Linked DNA regions of Homo sapiens: all the other regions are linked to region 1. Evidence: fine-mapped expression QTL. A gene starts in region 1. Each other region holds a variant in brackets. All regions are shown on one strand. Distances are between the middles of the regions. Region 1 holds the start of PATJ (PATJ crumbs cell polarity complex component). Region 2 has its middle 25 kb from the start of L1TD1. Region 3 overlaps PATJ (PATJ crumbs cell polarity complex component).

Region 1 (8,180 bases):
GAGACACAGTCTCTACTAAAAATTTTTTAAAAGAGGCCAGGCGTGATGGCTCACATCCGTAATCCTGGCACTTTGGGAGGCCAAGTCGGGCAGATCTCTTGAGGTCAGGAGTCCGAGACCAGCCTGGCCAACATGGCAAAACCCTGTCTCTACTAAAAATACAAAATATATATATATATATTACCCAGTGGTGGTGGCGCACACCTGAGGTTGTGACGCTGAGCCAGGACAATCGCTTGAACCCAGGGAGGTGAAGTTTGCAGTGGGTGGAGATCGCGGCACTGCACTTCAGCCTGGGCAACAGAGTAAGGCTCTGTCTCAAAAATAAATAAATAAAATAAATGAATAAAAATTTTTAAAAAAAAAAATAATTGCCAGGCCCGGTGGTTCACGCCTGTAATCCCAGCACTTTGGGAGTCCAAGGCGGGTGGATCGCCTGAGGTCAGGAGTTCGAGACCAGCCTGGCCAGCATGGTGAAACCCCATCTCTACTAAAAATATAAAAATTAGACAGGTGTGGTGGCAGGCGCCTGTAATCCCAGCTACTTGGGAAGCTGAGGCAAGAGAAGCGCTTGACCCTGGGAGGCAGAGGTTGTAGTGAGCCAAGACAGCGCCATTGCACTCCAGCCTGGGCAACAGAGCAAGACTCCGTCTCCAAATAAATAAATTAATTAATTAAAATAAAATAAAGTAAAATAATTTTGGCTAGGTGCAGTGACTCACGCCTGTAATCCCAGCACTTTGGGAGGCCAAGACAGGTGGATCACTTGAGGTCAGGAGTTCGAGACCAGCCTGGCCAATATGGTAAAACCCTGTCTCTACTAAAAATACAAAAATTAGCCAGGTATGGTGGCACATGTCTGTAATCCCAGCTACTCAGGAGTCTGAGGCAGGACAATCACTTGAACCCGGGAAGTGGAGGTTGCAGTGAGCTGAGATCACCCACTGCACTCCAGCCTGGGCAGCGGAGCAAGACTCTGTCTCAAAATAAATAAATAAATAAATATTTAAAAAAATTATCTGATCTCCCTTGTCTGATTGTAGGTCATAAGACCCCCATAAGAAGGGGTCCTGCCCATACCCTGGAGGAAGGAATGCTACAGAGAGAGGCCAAGAAAAATCTGAACAGATAGGCATTGCTGGGTTTCCCTACCCCATGCTTCAATTATGTCTACTCAATGAAGTCTCCATAAAAAGCCCAAGAAGATGGGGTAGGGAGAGCTTCTCAATATCTGAACACATGGAGGTTCCTGGAGGGTGGCATGCCCCTTCTCATACCTCACCCTGTGCATCTCTTCCTCTTGTATCCTCTGTAATATTCTTAATAATAAACTAGTAATAAACCTAAATAAGTGTTTTCTTGAGTTCCGTGAGCTGCTCTAGCAAGTTAACCAACCCAGAGGAGGGAGTTATGGGATTCCCAATTTATAGGTGGTTAGTCAGAAGCCGGGGTAAAACAATCTAGGACTTGTGATTGGCATCAGAAGTGAGGGCAGTCTTATGGGATCTGACACTATCCCCAGGTAAATAGTTTCAGAATCGAACTGTTAGATGCTCAGCTATTGCTTGATGCAGAACTGATGGGCCCACACATTTATTTGGTCACAGAAGTCCTCAGTGTTGACTGTAGTGGTGTGAGAGCAGAGGAAAAAGTTTGTGTTTTTTCTCTTACTCCTAATAGGATCTGGACTAGTAAGGGCAAATCTCTTCAGAACTCATTTTATAAGTTCTATCCATAAGTATTTCCATATTTATTAACTTTGTTATTATCTTTGTGAAAGTTGCAGATACCAGGTCAAAATCACTTTTTGTCAAACCCAAACAAACTAGAGAGCCTGAGGGAGAAAGCTCATGCTTGCAAGTCTGAGATAAAGATCGGTCTCAAGAAGGAACTAAAATAACCACCCAAGAAATTCTTTCTTTAGGAATGCAGTAATTCAGATAAGATAAGATAAGATAATCTTTTTTCCTTTTTTTTTTTTTTTTTTTTTTGAGACAGGGTTCTTGCTCTGTCACCCAGGCTGGAGTGTAGTGGTGCAAACACCACTCACCACAGCCTCCATCTCCTGGGCTCAAGCAATTCCCCTGCCTCAACCTCCCGACACACCTGACTATTTAAAAAGCTTTTTCTGTAAAGACAGCCATGTTGCTCAGGCTGGTCTCCAACTCTTGGCCTCAAGCGATCCTCCTGCCTAAGCCTCCTAAGTAGCTGAGATAACAGGCATGAGGCAGGTTGCCAGGCCTGATAAGATGCTCTCCATAACACCTGCCCAGTAATGGCATCTTCAACAATGGCCAACTCTGGCTTTCAGTCTGCAAAACCAATAAACTCTGTTTTCACGCAGCTTATCTGCACTTACTTTGCCAATAAAAGTTTCCTTTTACCCTCCCCTCTTCCATGCATATATGGCTTGCCAGGCCTGTGCACCTCGGGCTATAACGCTCATTTCTCATTCCCAAATAAATTCAACACATTTGGAGTGTTTTGTTGTTGTTGTTATTGTTAACATCTTAAAGGCCATTAGGGGCCCTAAAAACATCAAAGCTCACTTTAGCTAAAAGGCTCAATCTCACCTAACATTTTCTAATGCTGCAAACAGATTTAAGTTTTTAACCGCTGCCCCTGCCTCCACTCCTTTCAAATAGATGTGTGCAAATTAATTTGCAGCCAATAGGAATTTAGCCCAGAATGTGGTAGTATCATCCTCAGTGGAACCGACATTGTCCTTCTGGGTTTCCAAAGGCTTCTGCCTTCCTTTAAGAAACACTTGTCGCGCACCTACCAATAGCCAGACCCTAAATGCAGTCGAAAAATAAGGCCCTGAAAGGGGCACCCTCTAAATGGCAGAGGCAAGCCAGTAAACAACCAACTGGAATTCAAAGTGACAAGAGCCACTTGGAAATATGACAAAGTGCCAAGTGAAGGGGTGTTCACTTAATTCGGCCTGCGTGCGGGACGGCTGGGGCGCTTTGGAGAGTGGGAGTGATCTGAAAATGCTTTCCTGAGCTTGATTTAAAAGCAGGAGTCCAGGAATTTCCCCTAAGGCTGGAAGCACTTTCCGACAGAACCTCCCCATCTACGCAGCAAGGCTGGCAGAGCCCAGGGCCTGACCGCTGGCTTGGGAACCTCCGCTACGGGATGACCAGGCGCCGCGACGCGGCCGGGCCCAAGTCGCCCCCTCAGCCCGGCTCTGAGCACCCCCTCCTCTTTGTCCCCTCACCCCGTTCCCTCCTTCCACGGCCACCGATGGAGGGAAAGACTCCGCCCAGCTCTGGGAGCGAAACAGGGGCACCGATCTGGGCGCAAAATAGGATCCGTGCCACCCCCGAATACCAGTGGGCCGAGATTCGAGGCCCGAAAGGCCTGGGGAGGCGGGGCGGCGCCCCTCCCTGCCCGCGGCCTCGGCGAGCCCTGCGCGGCGGGGCGGGGACCACCGTGGGGTCACCCGGGCCCGACGCAGGAGGACGGCGCCCCCGCCCCGCCTCCCGGGTCAGCGCGGACGCACGCCGCGGGCGCCCCATCCTCGCCGCGGCCCCTCTGAGCGCCCGGCGGCGCCCTCCACCTCCGGCTCCCACCCACTCCAGGCGGGCGGGCGGGGAGAGCGCGGGGGCAGGGCAGGCAGGCCCGGGAAGCCCCGAGGGAGCTGCCCCCGGCCGGCCTCCAGGCGCGGGGACACCCAGGGGCGAGCGCGCACTGCACAGCCGGGACCTCACGCTTTACCTGGTGCGCTGGAGGAGCAGGTGGGAGCCCGGGTCGGGCGGGCTCGGTGTCGGCCCTGCCTCACCTGGGCGGAAGTGAGAGGCCCAGGGTGACCGCGCCTCACCTGGCAGGCCCTCCCCTCGCCCCGACTCTCCCCGCCCGGGGCGGGGCACCGGGGTGGCGCAGGGGGCGGGGGAGGGAGCCCGGGGCCGCGGGAGGCGGGCTCCAAGGAGGGAGGACGGTTGCCCTGGCTGTTTACGTGCAGGTGAATTCCTACCGGGCGCGGGATGGCCAAGGGCCTGGGAAAAGTGGGCTGTGGGGGCGGGGTGGCGGATCAGACCGCGCGTGGTGGGGACAGCCGCCACTGACGGGGAGGGAGATCCGGACAGACCGGTGTGGTTGGAGGCCTGCGTGTAGAGCGAGACCCAAGATCAAGGAAATTGAGGAGGATATCGATGAAAGCGTTGGGTCAATCCGCTTAACACTTTGTCTTTTTGCCCCTTTCCTTTCCTGTTCTCTCATCCCTCCTTTGTTTTCTCTATTCGCTGACGCAAAATAAAATATTCTAAAACGTGTAAATGTGGGAGTCATTATTTTCTTCTCATTTAGTGGAAGAAAGAAATCCAGCAGTATTTGCCTGCTGTATGCTAGGTGCTAGCTTATGCAATGTCTCATTTACTCTCTGAAGAAACTAATGAGGAAACCGTGCACCCTGTAGGTTGACTGGCCCAAAGTTTGGAACACAGGCAAGGCATTTTGACTCTAACTACAGTGATGATTTCACTATACGTTAATTTTCTTTTATTTGTGATGTCACACCTTCGAGAAAAATATGTCCCGATAGCCTTCTTCCACTCCCTTTAATAACTTTAGGCTTTTGATGATAGGGGTTTTACTTTGCCTGATACAGTCCACACATTAACGATAAAGAGAATCAATCTTCAGGTATCTTATTCATAGAGTACATACAGTAATTGTTAAACACTGTGATTGATTGTGGGAAGATGTGTAAAATGGTATCCCTGTCCCCAGGAAGATGAGGAATAGATACAAAACAACTACAACATAAAGACTTTCAGGCGGGGCGCGGTGGCTCACGCTTGTAATCCCAGTACTTTGGAAGGCCGAGGCGGGTGGATCACCCGAGGTCAGGAGTTCGAGACCAGCCTGACCAATATGATGAAACCCCGTCTCTACTACAAATACAAAAATTAGCCGGGTGTGGTGGATGCGTAGTCCCCTCTACGCAGGAGGCTGAGGCAGGAGAATCACTTGAACCCAGGAGGCAGAGGTTGCAGTGAGCCAAGATCCTGCCACTGCACTCCAGCCTGGGTGACAGAGAGAGACCCCGCCTCAAAAACAACAACAACAACAACAACAACAATTAGCCCGGAGTGGTGCCGTGAGCTTGTAGTCCCAGCTACTCTGTGGGGCTGAAGTCGGAGGATCACTTGAGCCCAGGGGTTCAAGACCAGCCTGGGCGACAGAGCAAGACTCCATCTCAAATAAATAAATAAATAAATAAAATTAAGATCATGCACTTGGTGCTTTGTAGTTTGCTTCCTTGTTTTAAAAGAAATGTAACACTTGTTAGTCATGGTAAGAAGACACACAATATCAGCATGGTTTCTGCTTTTTAGGAACTAACAAACTACTGAGGGAAATAACAGGCAAATTGCCAGATGGAAGCCAGACCTCAGAAAATGAAGAGATCTATTATGTTTTTTGAAAGCATGGGTTAGAACTTAAACAGGTCTTAACCAGAGTCTGAGATTAATTTAGGTAAAATGGAGAAGGAAAGGCTTTCCAAGTCGGGGGCAAAATAAAGTTGGAGATTGAGTGGGAAAAGGGAGAGGATTGAAAAACTACCTATCAGGTACTATACTTATTGCCTGGGTGATGAAATAATCTGTATATCAAACCCCATGGCCTACAATTTGTCTATGTAACAAACCTGGTTTTTTTGTTGTTGTTGTTGTTTTGAGACAGAGTCTCGCTCTGTTGCCCAGGCTGGAGTGCAGTGGCACAGTCAGCTCACTGCAACCTCTGCCTCCCTGTTCAAGCCATTCTCCTGCCTCAGCCTCCTGAGTAGCTGGGATTACAGGTGCCAGCCACCACACCCGGCTAATTTTTTGTATTTTTAGTAGACATGGGGTTTCACCACGTTGGCCAGGCTGGTCTCAAACTCCTGACCTCGTGATCCACCCGCCTCAGCCTCCAAAAGTGCTGGGATTACAGGCGTGAGCCACTGCACCTGGCCTACAAACCTGTGCATGTAGCTCTGAACCTATAATAAAAATTAAATAGGAAAAAAAAGAAAGGTGGAGACCAATTATCTCAAAGAATCACCTTGCAAACATTGGTCTCTTCTTTTTAAATTTATTTTTATTTATTTATTTTTTAAATTGAAATTGAATCTCACTATGTTACCTAGGCTGGCCTCAAACTCCTGGACTCAAGCAATCCTTCCACCTTAATATCCTTCTTGAAAAGCTGAGATTATAGGCACCACCACTACACCTGGCTATTGCACCTCTTCTTTATTTATTTATTGTAGAGAGATGGTCTCACTATGTTGCCCAAGCTACTCTCAAACTCCTGGCCTCAAGCCATCCTCCTGCCTCAGCCTCCCAAAGTGCTGGGATTACAGGCATGAGCCACCATGCCTGGCCTCCTCTTATTTTATTTTGTATTTATTTAATTAATTAATTTTTTTTGAGACAAGGTCTCACTCTGTCACCCAGGCTGGTGCACAGTGGTGCAATCATGGCAGCCTCAAATTCCTAGGCTCAAGCGATCCTCCCACTGCAGCCTCCCGAGTAGCTGGGACTATAGGCATGCACCATCATGACTGGCTTATTTATTTATTTAGACAGAGTCTCGCTGTTGTTGGCCCTACCCTGGAGTGCAACTGGAACCTCCGCCTCCCAGGTTCCAGCAATTCTCCTGCCTCAGCCTCCTGAGTAGCTGAGATTACAGGCGCCCGCCACCACACCTGGCTAATTTTTGTATTTTTAGTAGAAATGGGTTTCACCATGTTGGCCAGGCTAGTCTCAAACTCCTAACCTCAGGTGATCCACCCACCTCGGCCACCCAAAGTGCTGGGATAACAGGCATGAGCCACCACACCCAGCCTGCCTCTTCTTACTTTAATATTAAATGATGTTGTGAACATATTCCCCTATTTTCAAAAAGCTATGTAACTTTAAGTTGACCATGAAACCAAGTCCAAACTCCTTTTCTTGCTATTCAAGGCCCTTCAAACTCTCCCCTGCTTGCTGACTCTTTTCTTTTCTTTTTTTTTTTTTTTGAGACAAAGTCTCGCATTCCAGGCTGGAGTGCTATGGCGTGATCTCAGCTCACTGCAACCTCCACCTCCCGGGGTCAAGCGATTCTCCTGCCTCAGCCTCCTGAGTAGCTGGGATTACAGGCGCCTGCCACCACACCTGGCTAATTTTTGTATTTTTAGTAGAGACGGGGTTTCACCATGTTGGCCAGGCTGGTCTCAGACTCCTGACCTCAGGTAATCTGCCTGCCTTGGCCTCCCCAAAGTGCTGGGATTACAGGCGTGAGCCACTGTGCCCGGCCCCTTCTTGCTGACTCTTCAACCTAATCTCCACTTCACCTCTGGAGGATCTTACTCTGAGCAAATTTATCTATTCCATATCCATGGAACACCAATGGCTTTTCTGTTCGTTACCTACCCACTTTCCCCTGCCTGGAATGTTCTGTAAGCCCTACCCTCCTTCTAGGGCTAGACTCAAGTCTAACCCCTTCTGAAAAGCTGCCTCCCTGGCCACCCCAGGAAACATCATCTCTATCAGTTTTAACCTGATTTTCTCTACATTTCTGTGCTGTTAATTAATTTTACCTCACCAACCACCCTTCTTCCTTTGTGTTGTTAATTAACTAATTAATTTTTTCAGGCCAGGTGTAGTGACTCATGAATGTAATCCCAGCACTTTGGGAGGCCGAGGCGGGTATATCACCGGAGGTCAGGAGTTCAAGACCAGCCTGATCAACGTGGGGAAAACCCACTAAAAATACAATAATAACCCAGGCGTGGTGGCACACACCTGTAGTCCCAGCTACTCAGGAGGCTGAGGCAGGAGAATTGCTTGAACCCAAGAGGCGGAGGTTGCAGTGAGCCGAGATCATGCCACTGCACTCCTGCCTGGGCAACAGAGCAAGACTCCATCTCAAAAAAAAAAAAGAAAAATAAATAAATAATTGAGACAGGGTCCCACTCTGTTGTCCAGGCTGGAGAGCAGTGGTGAGATCATAACTCACTGCAGCCTTGAACTCCTGGGCCCAAGCCATTCCCCCATGTTAGCCTCCTGAGAAGCTGGGACTACAAACATGCACCACCATGCCCAGCTAATTTTTTAAATTTTTTATATTTAGAGACAAGGCCTCTCTATGTTGTCCAGACTGGTCTCAAACTCCTGGGCTCAAGGGCTCCCAAAGTGCTCCCAAAGTGC
Region 2 (8,180 bases), 430 kb before region 1:
ATCCTAGCTACTCGAGAGGCTGAAGCAGGAAAATCATTTGAAACCGGGAGGTGGAGGTTGCACTGAGCCGAGATTGCACCATCACACTCCAGCCCGGGCAACAAGAGGGAAACTCCATCTCAAAAAAAAAAAAAAAAAAAACGACCACTAAATCTGCTAGTGTTTTCCTTTTTTTTTTTGAGACGGAGTCTTGCTCTGTCACCCAGGCTGGAGTGCAGTGGCTCGATCTCAGCTCACTGCAAGCTCCACCTCCTGGGTTCACACCATTCCCCTGCCTCAGCCACCCGAGTAGCTGGGACTACAGGCGCCCGCTACCACGCCCAGCTAATTTTTTGTATTTTTTAGTAGAGACGGGGTTTCACCATGTTAGCCAGGATGATTTCGATCTCCTGATCTCATGATCTGCTCGCCTCGGCCTCCCAAAGTGCTGGGATTACAGGCGTGAGCCACCGTGCCCGGCCTCTGCTAGCATTTTCTAAGTGTATCCTATAATAGCAATCTTACTTAGAGTACTCAAAATGATAAATTCTAGCAACAAGTCTCCTTCAGAGTGCAGACATTGGAAAGGAGCAGGATATGGGCAGGGTGGGGGCGGGGGGGCACCCGAGGACTGAAATCCATGGCCAAACCCTGAAACCCTCACATCTGTATCTTGTTGCTCAATGTCCAGGCCAGGCAAATGGATCTAACTGGCCAATGGAAAAGCTGGGATTAGAAGGCAATGGAACCTGGTCATAGTCAGAGACAAAGCACCAACAGGTATGAGGATCACGTCCACCTTCCCGTACTGTCAGTTAATAACCTGGCTGGGGTTGAAACTGACCTTCTGAGGCTCTGGCCACACTGGAGGTCAGGAATGCTTGCACTACAGCCAGGCCTTTTCTGCCTTCCCTCCCCTCCTGTCTGGTTCCTACTGAGGACTCAGCTAAATGAACATGTTTTTCTCCATTGGTCTGGATGGTTCCAGAGACAATCAGCTGCAGTGCTACAGTGGAAAGTTGGAAGGAAGAGAGTGAGTTTGGGAGGATGTGGCCCAAGCCTGGACTGACTTCATTTCTAGCCTATGAAGATGATTAAACAGCGACTTAGGGTCTAAAGACCAGTACCTTCCAGGTAGCTCTTTAGGTCTGGAATTCTCAGCTCTGCATTCCCTCTCTCAAGGTCTCATCTCTTCCGGAAGAGTTAGTTGGTTATCTGATGGGATAGAAAATCTGAATATTGGGCCAGGTGCTGGTGGCTCACGCCTGTAATCCCAGCACTTTGGGAGGCTGAGGCCCCTGAGGTCGGGAGTTCGAGACCAGCCTGACCAACATGGAGAAACCCTATCTCTACTAAAAATACAAAATTAGCCGGGCATGGTGGTGCATGCCTGTAATCCCAGCTACTCGGGAGGCTGAGGCAGGAGAATCGCTTGAACCCAGGAGGCGGAGGTTGCAGTGAGCAGAAGTCGTGCCATTGCACTTCAGCGTAGGCAACAAGAGCGAAAGACTCCATCTCAAAAAAAAAAAAAAAAAAAGCAAAAAGGTCTTATAGGGAAAAGAGAGATCAGACTGTTAGTGTGTCTATGTAGAAAGGGAAGATATAAGAAATTTCATTTTGACCTTACCCTGAACAATTGCTTTGCCCTGAGATGCTGTTAATCTGTAACTTTGCCCCAACCTTAAGCTCACAAAAACCTGTGTTGTATGAAATCAAGGTTTAAGGGATCTAGGGCTGTGCAGAATGTGCCTTGTTAACAAAATGTTTACAAGCAGTATGCTTGGTAAAAGTCATCGCCATTCTCTAGTCTCGATAAACCAGGGGCACAATGCACTGCGGAAAGCCGCAGAGACCTCTGCCCTGGAAGGTTGGGTATTGTCCAAGGTTTCTCCCCATGTGATAGTCTGAAATATGGCCTCGTGGGATGAGAAAGATCTGACCATCCCCCAGCCCGACACTCGTAAAGGGTCTGTGCTGAGGTGGATTAGTAAAAGAGGAAAGCCTCTTATAGTTGAGATAGAGGAAGGCCACTGTCTCCTGCCTTTTCCCTGGGAACTGAATGTCTCGGTATAAAACCCGATGGTACATTTGTTCAATTCTGAGATAGGAGAAAAACCACCCTATGGCGGGAAGCGAGACATGTTGGCAGCAATGCTGCTTTGTTATTCTTTACTCCACTGAGATGTTTGGGCAGAGGGAAACATCAATCTAGCCTACTTGCACATCCAGGCATAGTACCTCCCTTTGAACTTAATTATGACACAGATTCTTCTGCTCACATGTTTTGTTGCTGACCTTCTCCCTATTATCACCCTGCTCTCCTACCACATTCTTCTTGCTGAGATAGTGAAAATAATAATCAATAAAAACTGAGGGAACTCAGAGACCGGTGCCGGTGCAGGTCTTTGGTATGCTGAGCGCCGGTCCCCTGGGCTCACTTTTCTTTCTCTATACTTTGACTCTGTGTCTTACTTTTCTCAGTCTCTCGTCCCACCCAACTAGAAATACCCACAGGTGTGGAGGGACTGGCCACCCCTTCAAGTCTGAATGTTGTTTGCCTGGGAGTGAAATTTCCTGTAACTCCTTGAGGAGCTTTAAAAAAAAAAATACCGGTTCTTAGATTTCTCCCTTTCTCCCCCTACTCTGGGGTGTGCTTGGGCATTGAGCCTTTAAAATATCCCCAGGTGATTTGAATGAATAGCCCAGGTTAAGAACCACTGCCCTAAAAAGAGCAGCAGGTTTGTGCTATTTCTTTTTTTTTTTTTTGAGACCGAGTCTCACTCTGTCATCCAGGCTGGAGTGCAGTGGTGCAATCTCAGCTCACTGGAACCTCTGCCTTCCGGGTTCAAGATCCTCCTGCCTCAGCTTCCCGAATAGCTGGGATTTACAGGCGCCCCCAAGCCCGGCTAATTTTTGTATTTTTAGTACAGACGAGGTTTCACCATGTTGGCCTGGCGGGTCTGAAACTCCTGACCTCAAGTGATCCACCCGCCTCGGCCCCAAAGTGCTGAGATTACAGGCATGAGCCACCGCACCCTGTCAGGTTTGTGCTTTTTGGACAGGTGGGGCTGTGTGTTGTACCTGTCTGCTAACAAATGTTCATACACCTGGGCATGGTGGCTCATAACTGTAATCCTGGCACTTTGGGAGGTTGAGTGGGAGGATCGCTTGAGGCCAGGAGTTTTAGACCAGCCTGAGCAACATAGTAAGACCTCGTCTCTACAAAAAATTTTAAAAAGCCCACTGTGGTGGTGTGTACCTGTAGTCCTAGCTACTCAGCAGGCTGAGGCAGGAGTGTTATTTGAGCCAAGGAGGTCGAGGGTGCAATGAATCCTAGTCTCACCACTGCACACTAGCCTGGGTGGCAGAGTGAGACCCTGTTTTAATAAAAAAAAAAGAAAGAAGTTCAGTCTGGGTGTGCTGGCTCACGCCTGTAATCCCAGCACTTTGGGAGGCTGATGTAGGAAGATCACTGGAGCCCAGGAGTTCAAGACCAGCCTGAGCAACATGGCGAAATCCTGTCTCTACTAAAAGTACAAAAAATTTGGTGGGTGTGGTGGCATGCACTTGTAGTTCCAGCTACTGGGGAGGCTGAGGTGGGAGGATCACCTAAGCCTGGGAGGTCAAGGCTGTGGTGAGCCATGATCGCGCCACTGCACTCCAGCCCAAGCAATAGAGTGAGACCCTGTCTCAAGAAAAAAAAAAAGTTCGTACAGGTGCAGACTCAGTCTGAGACTGGTTCTAACAGGTAAAATACCTCCAGTGGCAAGGCAGCAAGGAAGGAGCCTTGTGTTTCTTTCTGCCTTTAGCCACTGGAGGCAGAAAAGAACTCGGCAATTTGTGAATGACCACAGACTGGAAAAAAAGGGGAGTGTTCTCCAGGCTTTCAAAGTTTAGTGTTTAGAATCACCAGAAGAGCTTGTTAAAACTCAGATTTTTTGGCCCTACCCCAGAGATTCTGATGCAGTTGGTCTAGGCTAGGGCATACATTTGCACCTCTCCTAGGTGATGCTGATGATGGTGGTCTGCAGTCACATCTTGAGCAGCAGTGCTGTCTATGCCAATGGATAGTGTGCGCAAAGGCCTAAGGGTGTGAGAGTCCGGCTTATCCTGGGATAAGTGCTTAGTGAGACGAGAGTTAACACGACTGCTGGAGGTTAAGGTGGAAGCTAAATTATGAAGAGCCTAACATCCATGCTGAGTTTAGACTTGACCCTGAGTCCACTGAGAAGCCACCTAATTAGGTATACAAATACTTAGGGTCCTTGGGTGGTGGGGTGGCAGAGGCAAGATCTCAAGCCATCTGCTCCTGAGGGTTCTGGGATGGTAGAAGTGATGATGGTGACTGCACCACAGTTGTGGACACCAGAGGGGGCGGGAGGCTGGAAAGGGGTTGTAAACAAGGATAGTGGACACTTCTGCACTTTCCCTAAGGCAAGGCCGTCCCTAGAGGGGTCTGTTCAAGGTCTCATGATGTCTGATGCTTGATCTGTGAATTTGGAGGGTGTTTTTGGATGAGATCAATGTTCCTTTTTTTGTTTGCTTTGTTTGTTGTTGAGATAGGGTCTCGATCTTTCTCCCAGGCTGGGGTACAGTGGCGCCATCTCAGATCACTGCAGCTTCTGCCTCCTGGGCTCAAGTGATCCTCCCACCCTCAGCCTCTGGAGTAGCTGGGACTTCGGGCACGTGCCACCATGCCCAGCTGTGAAACATTCTTCACAGAAAATTATCTTCTGGGTCTTGAGCCTGCTGGCCCACAGTGTAGATTTTGGACTTGCCCACATCCGTAACTGCAAAAGCTAATTCCTTATGATAAATCTTTCTGAATACATACAAATCCTCTCGGTTCAGTTTCTCTGGAGAACACTAACTAATACAATGTTGGACAGGAAGTTTCTGCTCT[CAG/G]TCTTTAAGAACAGGTGAATCTTATTCCTCATGGCATGGGGGCCACTGGAGTATGTTTCTTTTCTTTTTGGGGGGAGTGGGAGAGGAGGAACAGGGTCTCACTCTGTTGCCCAGGCTGGAGTGCAGTGTGTGATCATCGCTTACTGCAGCCTCGACTTCCAGGCTCAAGCGATCCTCTCACCTCAGCCTCCAAAGTAGGTGGGGCTGCAGGTGCGTGCCACTGTGCCAGGCTGATTTTTTAAGTAATTTATTATTTTTCAGATAGGGGCCTTACTGTGTCACCCAGGCTGTAGTGCACGATCAAGGCTCACTGCAGCCTCAATATCCCTGGGCTGAGGTGATTCTACCACCTTAGCCTCCGGAGTAGCTGGGACTACAGGTGTGCCACCAGGCCCAGCTCATTTTTGTGTTTTTTGTAGAGACAGGGTCTTGCCATGTTGCCTAAGCTGGTCTCAAACTCCTGTGCTCAAGCAATCCGTCCACCTCAGTCTCCCAAAGTGTTGGGATTACACATGTGAGCTACTGAGCCCAGCCTAATTTACTTTTTGTGGAGATCAGGTCTCACTATGTTGCCCTAGCTGATCTCGAACTCCTGGGTTCAAGTGATCCTCCACTTTAGCCTCCCTGGACTGTTTTCAGACAGCTATCCTGAAGTTCCCCAAAGAGTAACACATGGCTCTGGGGTTGAGAGGAGTTGAATGATGGAGTCCCTTTAAGACATTACCGTTTCTTCTGTTCTCCTGGGAGAGTAATGCTGGGGGCATGCCCAGTAAAGCCATTAGGCAGGAGGAGCCATTGAAACACCTCATCTGTCATCAACTATGTCTATCTAGAGAAGAAGAAGGTTTAAACCATGAGGGGGGAGGGTATCCAGAGTGCCTGGCCTTGGAAATTCTTCCCAGGATGTGGAGATATACGGTGAGTGGATAGACTAGGTCTTCTTTGTCTACATCCAAAAGATGTGTCCTTTTTTCATTTGTTTGTTTTCTTCTACTCTTTATTTTAATCTTTTTTAAATCTTGTGCTTGTATTGTGGAACCAAATCTTGTGGTTGTGTTGAGGGAAAACTGAAATAAACTTACAAATTCAGGCTGTGCACACACATGTTTATAGTGGCTTTATTCCTAATTGCCAAAACTTGGAAGCAACCAAAATGTTCTTTAGTAGGTAAATGGATAAACTGTGGTACATCCACACAACGGAGTATAACTCAGTGCTAAAAAGAAATCAGCTATCAAGTCATGAAAAGACATGGAAGACGGGCTGGGTGCCGTGACTCACGCCTGTAATCCCAGCATTTTGGGAGGCCGAGGCAGGTGGATCACCTGAGGCCAGGAGTTCATCACCAGCCTGGCCAACATGGCAAAACTCCGTCTCTACTAGAAATACAAAAATTAGTTGGGTGTGGTTGCGCACGCCTGTAATCCCAGCTACTCAGGAGGCTGAGGTAGGAGAATCGCTTGAACCTGAGAGGCGGAGGTTGCAGTGAGCAAAGATTGTGCCACTGCACTCTAGCCTCTGAGACAGAGAGAGACTCCATCTCAAAAAAAAAAAAAAAAATTGGTTTCCATGGTTGGGAAGGGGGTTGGAGAAGAATAGGGAGCACACAAAGGACTTTTAGGGCAGTGGAAATACTCCATATACCTTTATGGTAGGCACATATCATATATTTGTCCAAACCCATAGGATGTACATCACCAAGATTCAACCCTCAGGTACTCTATGGAGTTTGGGTGAGAATGATGTGTCAATATAGGTTCATTCACTGTAGCAAATGTACCATTCTGGTGGAGGATGTTGATAATGGGAGAGGCTGTGTGAGTGAGGGCACAGGTATGTGGGAAAGCTCTGCACCTTCCTCGCAATTTTGCTGTTAACTTAAAACTGCCTTTTGAAATTTTTTCGCAGACAGGGTCTTACTTTGTGACCCAGGCTGAAGTGCAGTGGTGCAAACACAGCTCACCATAGCCTCAACCTACCAGGCTCAAGCAATCCTCCCACCTCAGCCTCCCGAGTAGCTGAGACTATAGGCACAGGCCATCATGCCTGGCTAATTTTTGTATTTTTTGTAGAGATGGGGTTTCACCATGTTAGCCAAGCTGGTCTCAAACTCCTGGGCTCAAGTGATCCTCCCACCTCGGCCTCCCAAAGTGTTGAGATTACAGGTGTGAGCCACCGTGCCTGGCCAAAACTGCCCTTAAAAATAGTCTTAACACAGCGAGAGCCCCATCTCTACAAAAAGTTTAAAAAAAAAAAAAAAAAAAATTAGCCAGACGTGGTGTCGCACACCTGTAGTCCCAGCCAGTTGGAGAACTGAGGTGGGAGGGTCACTGGAGACGGGGAGTTTGAGGCCACAGTGAGCCGTGATTGCATCACTGCACTCCAGCCTGGGTGACAGAGTGAGACCCTGACTCAAAAGAGGAAAAAAAAGCTCTCGAGAATATTTCGAACTAATTTAGTAGCCATGTGTGAGTACTCTACCGTAGTTTGCTAAGTTGGTGAATTCCCACTAAGGTTTATTGGAAAACTCTTAGGACTGCAAGCTAGTGGGGGACTGGGATAGTCACTTCCTTTCTCTGGCACGCGTCTCCCACTTGTAAAATGGGAGGAGTGGTGTAGCAGGCAGGACCGACTCCCAGTTCTGAGGTTGCCTCCATTTCAAAAAAACTGATTCTAGAAGGAGGATCAGATACATGTTTGTTCCTGTATAATTTTGCCAAGCATAGGTCCTGATACCCAACAGCAATCTCTCAGGGACCCAAGACCAAAGCAACTTTCTTGCTTCCTCCTTCACATGACTGGAAATGGATATGCTGCTCAGGCAAGGCAGGGGTGAGAGTCTTTTATACACCGTCAAACACACACACACACATGACTCTTCCAAATGTCAGTTTATCTTGGGATTGTGTAGAGAGTGAAATGTTTTTTTTTTATCTTTACTTAAATATAGAGCATCTGAAGATTGAAAGTCAAGCTGTCAAAAACTTAACATTTGCACTAGGCTGGCATACAACTGAGACTATAACCTAAATTTAAATTTTTGTGTTAAAAAAAAAACTCACTGTTCTGGTTGACTTTAATAGAAAAAATATAAATAAAACATAAAATTAAGAAAATTGGGTGCAAAAAATTTTAGTTGTGCCAGACAAGGTGGCGTGCACTTGCAGTCTCAATTACACAGGATGTTGAAGTGCAAGGATTGCTTGAGCCCAGGAGTTCAAGGCCAGCCTGGGCAACATAGCAAGATCCTTGTCTTAAAAAAAAAAAGAACAAGAAAAGAAAAAAGGAAAGGAAAG
Region 3 (8,180 bases), 410 kb before region 1:
ATGGTCAGTTTATGGTTTATCTACCTTGGGGATAAGCATTCTGCTACCCAGAATGTTTCTGTGCTGCCTTTCCGCTCCTCTTTTGCCTATCACCAGTTTAACAGGTTGTTTGGGAATAACATGCCTTATTAGGCATTCTAGCAAGATGCAGGAAGGGGGTAAATGTGCAGCTGCTCAATGTGGTCCAAAAGTAAATGCCAAATGACTAAAGGGTTTTATGGCAGGTCACTGGGCCCAATTAACAGGTGATAAGATCTAAGATCTGCACAGGTAAAAGCAAGCTTGTATTTAATGTATAGTTTAGCTTTCTGGAAAGAGACAGATTCCTTCTTATTTCTCCTTTCAAAGACCTTTATCTCTCTCTCTCTCTTTTCTTTTTTTTTTTTTTGAGATGGATTGCCCAGGCTGGAGTGTAGTGGCATCATCTGGGATCATGGCAACCTCTGCCTCCCAGATTTAAGGGATTTTCATGTCTCAGCCTCCCAAGTAGCTGGGATCACAGGCATGTGCCACCATGCCCGGCTAATTTTTGTGTTTTTTAGTAAAGACGGGTTTTGCCATGTTGACCAGGCTGGTCTTGCACTCAGGTGATCCACCCACCTCAGGCTCCCAAAGTGTTGGGATTACAGACGTGAGCCACTATGCCCAGCCTCGAAGACCTTTATTTCTTTAGGAAAACAAAGCAGTTCAACAAGATCTGTTCATAAACAAATGACTATGATAAAACCAAAGAAGAAAAAAAAACTGTAGTATCAATTTGAAATACTTCTCAGAGATCTTCAAAATTTATAAAAAATTAAATTCCAATTAAAAAAATCAGTGAAGTTAAAAATAATTACTCAGGCTGGGCACAGTGGCATACACCTATAATCCCAGCACTTTAGATGGCCGAGGCAGGTGGATCGCCTGAGCTCAGTAGTTTGAGACCAGCCTGGGCAACATGGCGAAACCCCGTCTCTACCAAAAATACAAAAATTAGCCAGGCGTGGTGGCATGCGCCTGTAGTCCTAGCTACTGAGGCAGGAGAATTGCTTGAACCCGGGGAGGCAGAGGTTGCAGTGAGCTGAGATCAAGCCATTGCACTCCAGCCTGGGCGACAAGAGCGAAACTCCCTCTCAAAAAATAAAATAAAGAATGCACTGATTCGAGGCTTGCACAGCACAAACCTTTCTGCCTCAGCCCCCTGGTGCCTGTTATTTTCAAGAAGAAAGCCAAATCTTTTTTTTGTTCTAGCTCAGAACAATACTTCCAAGGACACCTTCTAAAGAGTGGCACTGCTCCTTATGCTGTGTTGCTGAAAGAAGACACTCTAAAAATCTGTGAGCATCTGCTTCTGTCACAGAATCCAAAGGAGACTGCACTTCTTGTGACTCCGCCATTGTAAAAGAACTCTTCTCCCACTATTCCTGTGTGAGAATTTCCTATAAGATTCAAATGAAATGAGCATACATGCACACATCCAGGTTTGACCCAAAGTAAAGCAAAGCAAAGCACTTAAAAGAAATCTCACCTAGGTTTAATTTTTTTAAAAAAGTACATTAAAAAAGAAGATATACCTTTGCAAATACAGTCTTGACATAAATTGGCAGGTCTCCATGGGGACTTCCATAACCCCCTACAATACTAAACCCCAAGCCTTCAGAGCCTTTCTCCAAAGTAATAATCTTAGGTGGAGGTGTTCTGAAAACACAATGCATGCTGTTTAATTCGAGAATAGATATTGAGAGGGAATTTCATTTAATTGGAAGAATACAGATTTGAGAGAGACTTTCATACTGCAAAACTATGAAGTTTGGTTTATCAGATCAAACTCTCAGAAAGCAATCTAGAAAGTTATTTTCTAACTTCTCATGTCATGCTAATTAATCACCAATATTCTTGATGTTTTAGAGGTTTCTCTTTCATAAAACTCACTGATTGCTAATTAAAGATAAAGTCATGATGCTGAAATTGTCAAAGCACTCTTCTATATGCTTAGTTTTTAACTCTTTTTTTTTTCTTTTTTTGAGACGGAGCTGGGACTATGGGTGTGTGCCATACCTGGCTAATTTTTGTATTTTTAGTAGAGATGGGGTTTCACCATGTTGGCCAGGCTGATCTCGAACTCCTGACCTCAAGTGATCTGCCTGCCTCTACCTCCCAAAGTGCTGGGATTACAGGCATGAGCCACTGCACCCGGCCAGTTTTTAACTTTTAAACTTACTGCTGACAGCTGAAGGAAGCTGTCGTCACATCCTTGAAGCATGTGCATGGAGACAGAGGTAGCGTGTCTCCTAGTGTGGTGGGAGACTGCCAGTCTTCACATAAACTCTTGTCCATAACAGATAACATCAGCTCGCAGCTCAGGAAACTGCTGCTCCTTTTCTTTTACCTTTTTTTTTTCTTTTGAGACAGAGTCTTGCTCTGTCACCCAGGCTGGAGTGCAGTGGCACAATCTTGGCTCACTGCAACCTCCACCTCCCGGATTCAAGCAATTCTCCTGCCTTAGCCTCCTAGTAGCTGGGATTACACACGTGTACTACCATGCCCAGCTAAGTTTTGTATTTTTAGTAGAGATGAGGTTTCGCCATGTTGACCAGGCTGGTCTCGAACTCCTGACCTCAGGTGATCCACCTGACGCCTCCCAAAGTGCTGGGATTCCAGGCGTGAGCTGCCGCACTCAGACTGCTGCTCCTTTTCTGCCGGAACGCCCTGGCCACTTCCACCTAAGGCAGGAACTCATTCTCCAAACTCACTTCCAATGTGAGGCTCTCCTGCCTCCCTTGGGAGGATGGGTCCCACAGCCTTTTCTGTGCTTCCCCTACATTGAGTCCAAATTTCCATTTTGGCACTGACTGTATCATATTGTAATTACTTAGCCATCCATTTCCTCTACCAGACTATAACCTCTTTGTCTTAGTCATCTGAGACTTCCCAGTACCATGTGTGGTGCTTGTCAGAAACTCAGGATCATGACTGTGTAGATGAGAACTGAAATCCAGGAGAGAAGAGAGAAACCAAGGTGAAACAAAATGGAGAAAGAAAATCTGTTTCAAATGTAAAATTTAGCTTTTCAAAGCTTCATCCAGTGTGGAAGTCTTCTCTCTTAGAAACAACATGGCTAAAAATTAAATTACCTATGTGGGCTCCCAGTAATTTAATCTTAATCTAAGTTTAGGTGATGCCAATTTCTTATTCCCAAATGCTATTGCTCAAAAGGCAGAAACCCAGACCCTGTCTTATTTATGATAGGTAGTTCATATTCGTGTACTGGCAGCATCCTTTGTTTTGTGGCAACATGCATGTCTGAGAGGCGAAGTCATCTCATATAAACTCAGCCATTCATGTACTTAGAGAAATTTGCAAAATGGGGACACAAGCAATCTTTGAATATGTTGTTCTATTTAACTAGAATATTCTTCCCTCTCTCCCTCCTCAATTTTGCTGGGTTTATTTATTTATTTTTTTGAGACGGAGTCTCGCTCTGTCACCCAGGCTGCAGTGCAGTGGCGCTATCTCGGCTCACTGCAAGCTCTGCCTCCTGGGTTTATGCCATTCTCCTGCCTCAGCCTCCCGAGTAGCTGGGACTACAGGCGCCTGCCACCACTCCTGGCTAATTTTTTTGTATTTTTAGTAGAGACGGGGTTTTTCACCATGTTAGCCAGGGTGGTCTCGATCTCCTGACCTCATGATCTGCCCGCCTCAGCCTCCCAAAGTGCTGGGATTACAGGCGTGAGCCACCGCCTGGCCAATTTTGCTGGGTTTATTAAAGGGTTTTCAGCTGGTTCACATTGTTACCAGTTGTTTGTTGATGTACTTACTGTTTGTTTACAGCAGACATCCATAGTTACTGCTGACGATCTATGCTATATAAATTGTTAACTGATTTCTTTTTCTTGTTGTTGTTGTTTTGTTTTTTGAGACAGAGTTCCACTCTTGTTGCCCAGGCTGGAGTGCAATGGCGTGATCTTGGCTCACCGCAACCTCTGCCTCCCGGGTTCAAGTGATTCTCCTGCCTCAGCCTCCCGAGTAGCTGGGATTACAGGCATGTGCCACCACGTCTGGCTAATTTTGTATTTTTAGTAGAGATGGGGTTTCTCCATGGTCAGGCTGGTCTTGAACTCCTGACCTCAGGCGATCTGCCCACCTCGGCCTCCCGAAGTGCTGGGATTACAGGCGTAAGCCACCACGCCCGGCCTTGTTAACTGTTTTTAACTGTTTTGTTTGTCTTTACATTTTTTT[A/TA]TAAACACAGGGTCTGACCATGTTGCCCAGGCCTTGGCCTCTCAAAGTGCTGGGATTACAGGAGTGAGCCACCACACTTAACTATTTTGAATGCCACCTGTTTATTCCAATTCTTTTTTTTTTTTTTTTTTTTTTTTCTTGAGACAGGGTCTTGTTCTGTCTCCTAGGCTGGAGTACAGTGGCACAACTGCAGCCCGTTGCAGCCTCAAACTCCTGGGTTCAAGTGATCCTCCTGCCTCAGCCTCCTTAGTAGCTGAGATTACAAGCATGCACCACTATGCTGGATCCAGTTCTCTTAAAACTGGCTCCAGTTCTCTTAAGCTTAAGCATCAGCTTCTCCAACTACACTCCTTAACTGAGTTATGCCCCATATCCATGGTTTCACAGGACCCTCTCTCAATGAATTTAGCTCTCCTACAGTTATCTTTTATAACTATGGATTTATGGGTCTGTTTTTCCACTTCTCTGGCAGCTCTCTGGGGACTGGGGCAATATCTTTACTTACATTTCTAAGTTTGAGTCCTCAGGACCTAGCACTTGTATCTAAGTGTCTGGCCTTAGAATGGTGCTCAATAAATATCTGTTGAGATACTGATGAATTGCCCCCTATAGGTGAATGATTATGACTCATGAATAAGGCTCTACTTTTCCCCACTTTGTGGCCTTACAAGCACTCTCAGTAACAGCTCACCAGCTGGATACAAATTCGATTCATGTTTCTTCTTTCAAACACAGCCCCCATTTCCAAAGATACTGGAATGAGAAGCTAGATGCCCAAAGCCATTGCTTTAGAGCTACCTCCTGTGGCCATCAAATCATTAAAGACCCTTATAATTGTGCCTATCTATACTCAGGGACATGTTTTCAGGGGAAGAGGGAGGAGTGTGGCTCTACTCCTCAACTGGCAACATCAGATGGAATTTGCCTCTATTGATCTCACAATATCATAACATTTTCAACCAATTAGTTTAAATTTACTTTCATATAGAAGGCTAGTAAAAAAAAAAAAAAATCCCAGTGTTAGCAGTGGTGGGATTATGAGTGATTTTTAAATTCCTTTAAGCTTGTGGTTCCCAGCCTGCCAGAGGCATGGAATTATAGCAAAGGAATTAAGATTACAAGGGGATCTCTGTATTTCCATAGCCACATCAAAGGATGCTAAAGGTACGCTGTACTTCCTATAAAGGTCCTGATTTTTTTTTTTTTTTAAGGAAAAGGCCACCGTAATTTGAAAAATGTTATATTTCTATGTGTTGTCATATGTTCATGGCATGCATGTATTAACTTTTATAATGAGAAAAAGGTAGAATGAGCTTAATTTAATATTCTTTCCTCAAGAAAAATAAACTCAAAGATGTCATTTAGGTGGGGAACTACCAGGAAAAAATTGGGACGGGCTATGACCATGAGATCCTTCAAATGAACCATCCAGATTTGTCAACAAACATTTATTGAGCACCTACTAGTGACCAGGCACTGCTGGTACCTGAGAGGAATAGCTTTAGGCAGCATTTCTCAAAGTGTAGATCCTTTGCCCATCTGTAGCAGAATCACTCTGGGAAACTTGTTAACATCAGGTTTCTGGAATCCACCACAGACCACCTAGTCAGAATTTTGGGATGTGGCCTGGGAATTCGCATCTTTAAACATGCTCCCTAGATTACTCCTCTTTTTTTTTTTTTTTTTTTGAGATGGAGTTTCCCTCTTGTTGCCCAGGCTGGAGTGCAGTAGTGCAATCTTGGCTCACTGCAACTTCCACCTCCCGGGTTCAAGCAATTCTCCTGCCTCAGCCTCCCAAGTAGCTGGGATTACAGGTGCCCGCTACTACGCCTGGCTAATTTTTTGTATTTTTAATAGAGACAGGGTTTCATCATGTTGGCCAGGCTGGTCTCGAACTCCTGACCTCAGGCGATCCACCCGTCTCGGCCTCCCAAAACGCAGGGATTACAGGCATGAGCCACTGAGCCCGGCCCTTAGATTACTCTTATGCATATTCTAGTTTGAGAAACCCTGCTTTAATGAACAACTTTAACTGCGATGACTGGTTTTAATGAAACATGTCAGCAAGTATAACAACAAGATTTCATCTCAGAACAAGATTTTAGCCTAGAAGTTCAGGAAACGTGGTTCCTTGCACAATAAAGCAGCGTGCACCTGGGCTATACATCCGTGGTTTCTTAGGGAAGCAGGCATAGGCACTGTGTCAAAGTGACCAGATGCAGTGTGTGTGCAGGCCCTGCAACAATGGTCTTTCAAGAACTCATGTGGTGGAATTAAGCCTTGTGAGAAATAAGGATTCCCTAGAATTTAGAAAAAGTCACGGGCGCTTTGGCCACTTCTCCTTTAGAGTGCACTTGAGTGTCTGGAAAAGTTCTTCCGAGCTTTGCCCACATGCATAATAGGCCCTCTGCATCTGAAATACTCACTCTGTGTCTTCTGGATGGTGTTCAGCAGTGGGCGAACCAAGGTGGTAGCCTGTAGACATGTTTTCAAGCTGAGCTGCTATGGCGCTTATATTGGTATCTGCTACAACCTGGGGAAAAAGTGAAAAAAAGGTATTTCATTATAAAGAAGGGGAGAATTAGAGAAACCATGCTGTATCCAAGGGTCAGTTCTCAATCCTAATCTTATTCAATTTATCTAGACCATTTGACACAAGGACTATTCTCTCAAACTTTTTTTTTTTTTTTTTTTTAAAGACAGTGTCTCACTCTGTTGCTCAGGTTGGAGTGCAGTGACATGATTTTGGCTCTCTGTAGCCTTGACCTCCCAGGCTCAAGCAGTCCTCCCACCTCAGCCTCCCACGTAGCTGGGACCACAGGCATGCACCACCAGGCCCTGCTAATTTTTTTTTTGAGACAGTTTCACTCTTGTCACCCAGGCTGGAGTGCAATGGCGCGATCTCAGCTCACTGCAAACTCTGCCTCCCGGGTTCAAATGATTCTCCTGCCTGAGCCTCCTGAGTAACTGGGATTACAGGCACCCACCACCATGCCTGGCTAATTTTTTTTTTTTTTTTTAGTCGGAGTCTCGCTCTGTCACCAGGCTGGAGTGCAGTGGCACGATCTCGGCTCACTACAACCTCTGCTTCCTGGGTTCAAGTGATTCTCCTGCCTCAGCCTCCCGAGTAGCTGGGACTACAGGCGAGTGCCAGTACGCCCAGCTAATTTTTATATTTTCAGTAGAGGCGGGGTTTCACCATGTTGGCCAGGCTGGTCTTGAACTCCTGACCTCAGGTGATCCGCCCACCTTGGCCTCCCAAAGTGCTGGGATTACAGGCGTGAGCCACCAAGCCCAGCCCTGGCTAATTTTTTTGTATTTGTAGAGGGAGTTTTTGCCATGTTGCTCAGGCTGGTCTCCAACATCTGAGCTCAAGTGATCCGCCCGTCTCGATATCCCAAAGTGTTGGGATTATAGATAGGCATGTGCTCCTGTGCCCGGCCTTCAACTATTTTCTTCATTTCTTCGTTTGGCTTCCATGACACCACAATTCACTAGTTTATTTTCCACACTTCTGGCCATTCCTTCTATTATTTAAACCTCTAACTGAGGGCCACAGGGCTTAGTCCTTGAGCTTCTTATCTTTTCCATTAAACATATTATCCCATCCCATTGTCTCCCATTCCATCCCATCCCATATCCCATCCCATCCATCTCATGAATGTAAATGCCATCTAAGTGATGATAATCCCTGAATCTGTACCTCTAGCTCCAATGCTTACCTAACACCAGATCCATATATCCAGTCACCCACTGGATGTCACAACTGGATATATGGATCCAGTTGTCACTGGGTCCATAGACATCTATGGGACGTCTCCAGGAATCTCAAAGCTAACATGTCTAAAATGGAGGCTTTGCTCCCTGCAACCTTTGCTCCTGGAGCCTTCTTCATCTTGGGCAACTGTAGCTTGATTTTTCCAGTTTCAAGGATGGTGTCATCCTTGGCTCATCTCTGT

The links. PIP is the estimated chance that this variant, and not a neighbour inherited with it, causes the effect.
Region 2: its variant is fine-mapped to the expression of PATJ in lung (TOPMed, PIP 0.95).
Region 3: its variant is fine-mapped to the expression of PATJ in aorta (GTEx, PIP 0.95).

Annotation. Positions count from the first base shown.
Region 1 is chr1:61,738,096-61,746,275 of GRCh38, reverse strand. PATJ (PATJ crumbs cell polarity complex component) reads right to left here and starts at 3,796. Exons shown (of 44, transcript NM_001350145.3): 1 at 3,721-3,796. PATJ-DT (PATJ divergent transcript) reads left to right here and starts at 3,492. Exons shown (of 1, transcript NR_185910.1): 1 at 3,492-4,278. RefSeq lists a silencer at 3,335-4,044.
Region 2 is chr1:62,165,316-62,173,495 of GRCh38, reverse strand. No RefSeq gene overlaps it. Among named protein-coding and RNA genes, the nearest start is that of L1TD1, 25 kb to the left of the region's middle. The variant CAG/G (reference allele first, on the strand shown) is at 4,883.
Region 3 is chr1:62,146,858-62,155,037 of GRCh38, reverse strand. PATJ (PATJ crumbs cell polarity complex component) reads right to left here. Exons shown (of 44, transcript NM_001350145.3): 42 at 6,648-6,754; 43 at 1,557-1,680. Among named protein-coding and RNA genes, the nearest start is that of L1TD1, 44 kb to the left of the region's middle. The variant A/TA (reference allele first, on the strand shown) is at 4,222.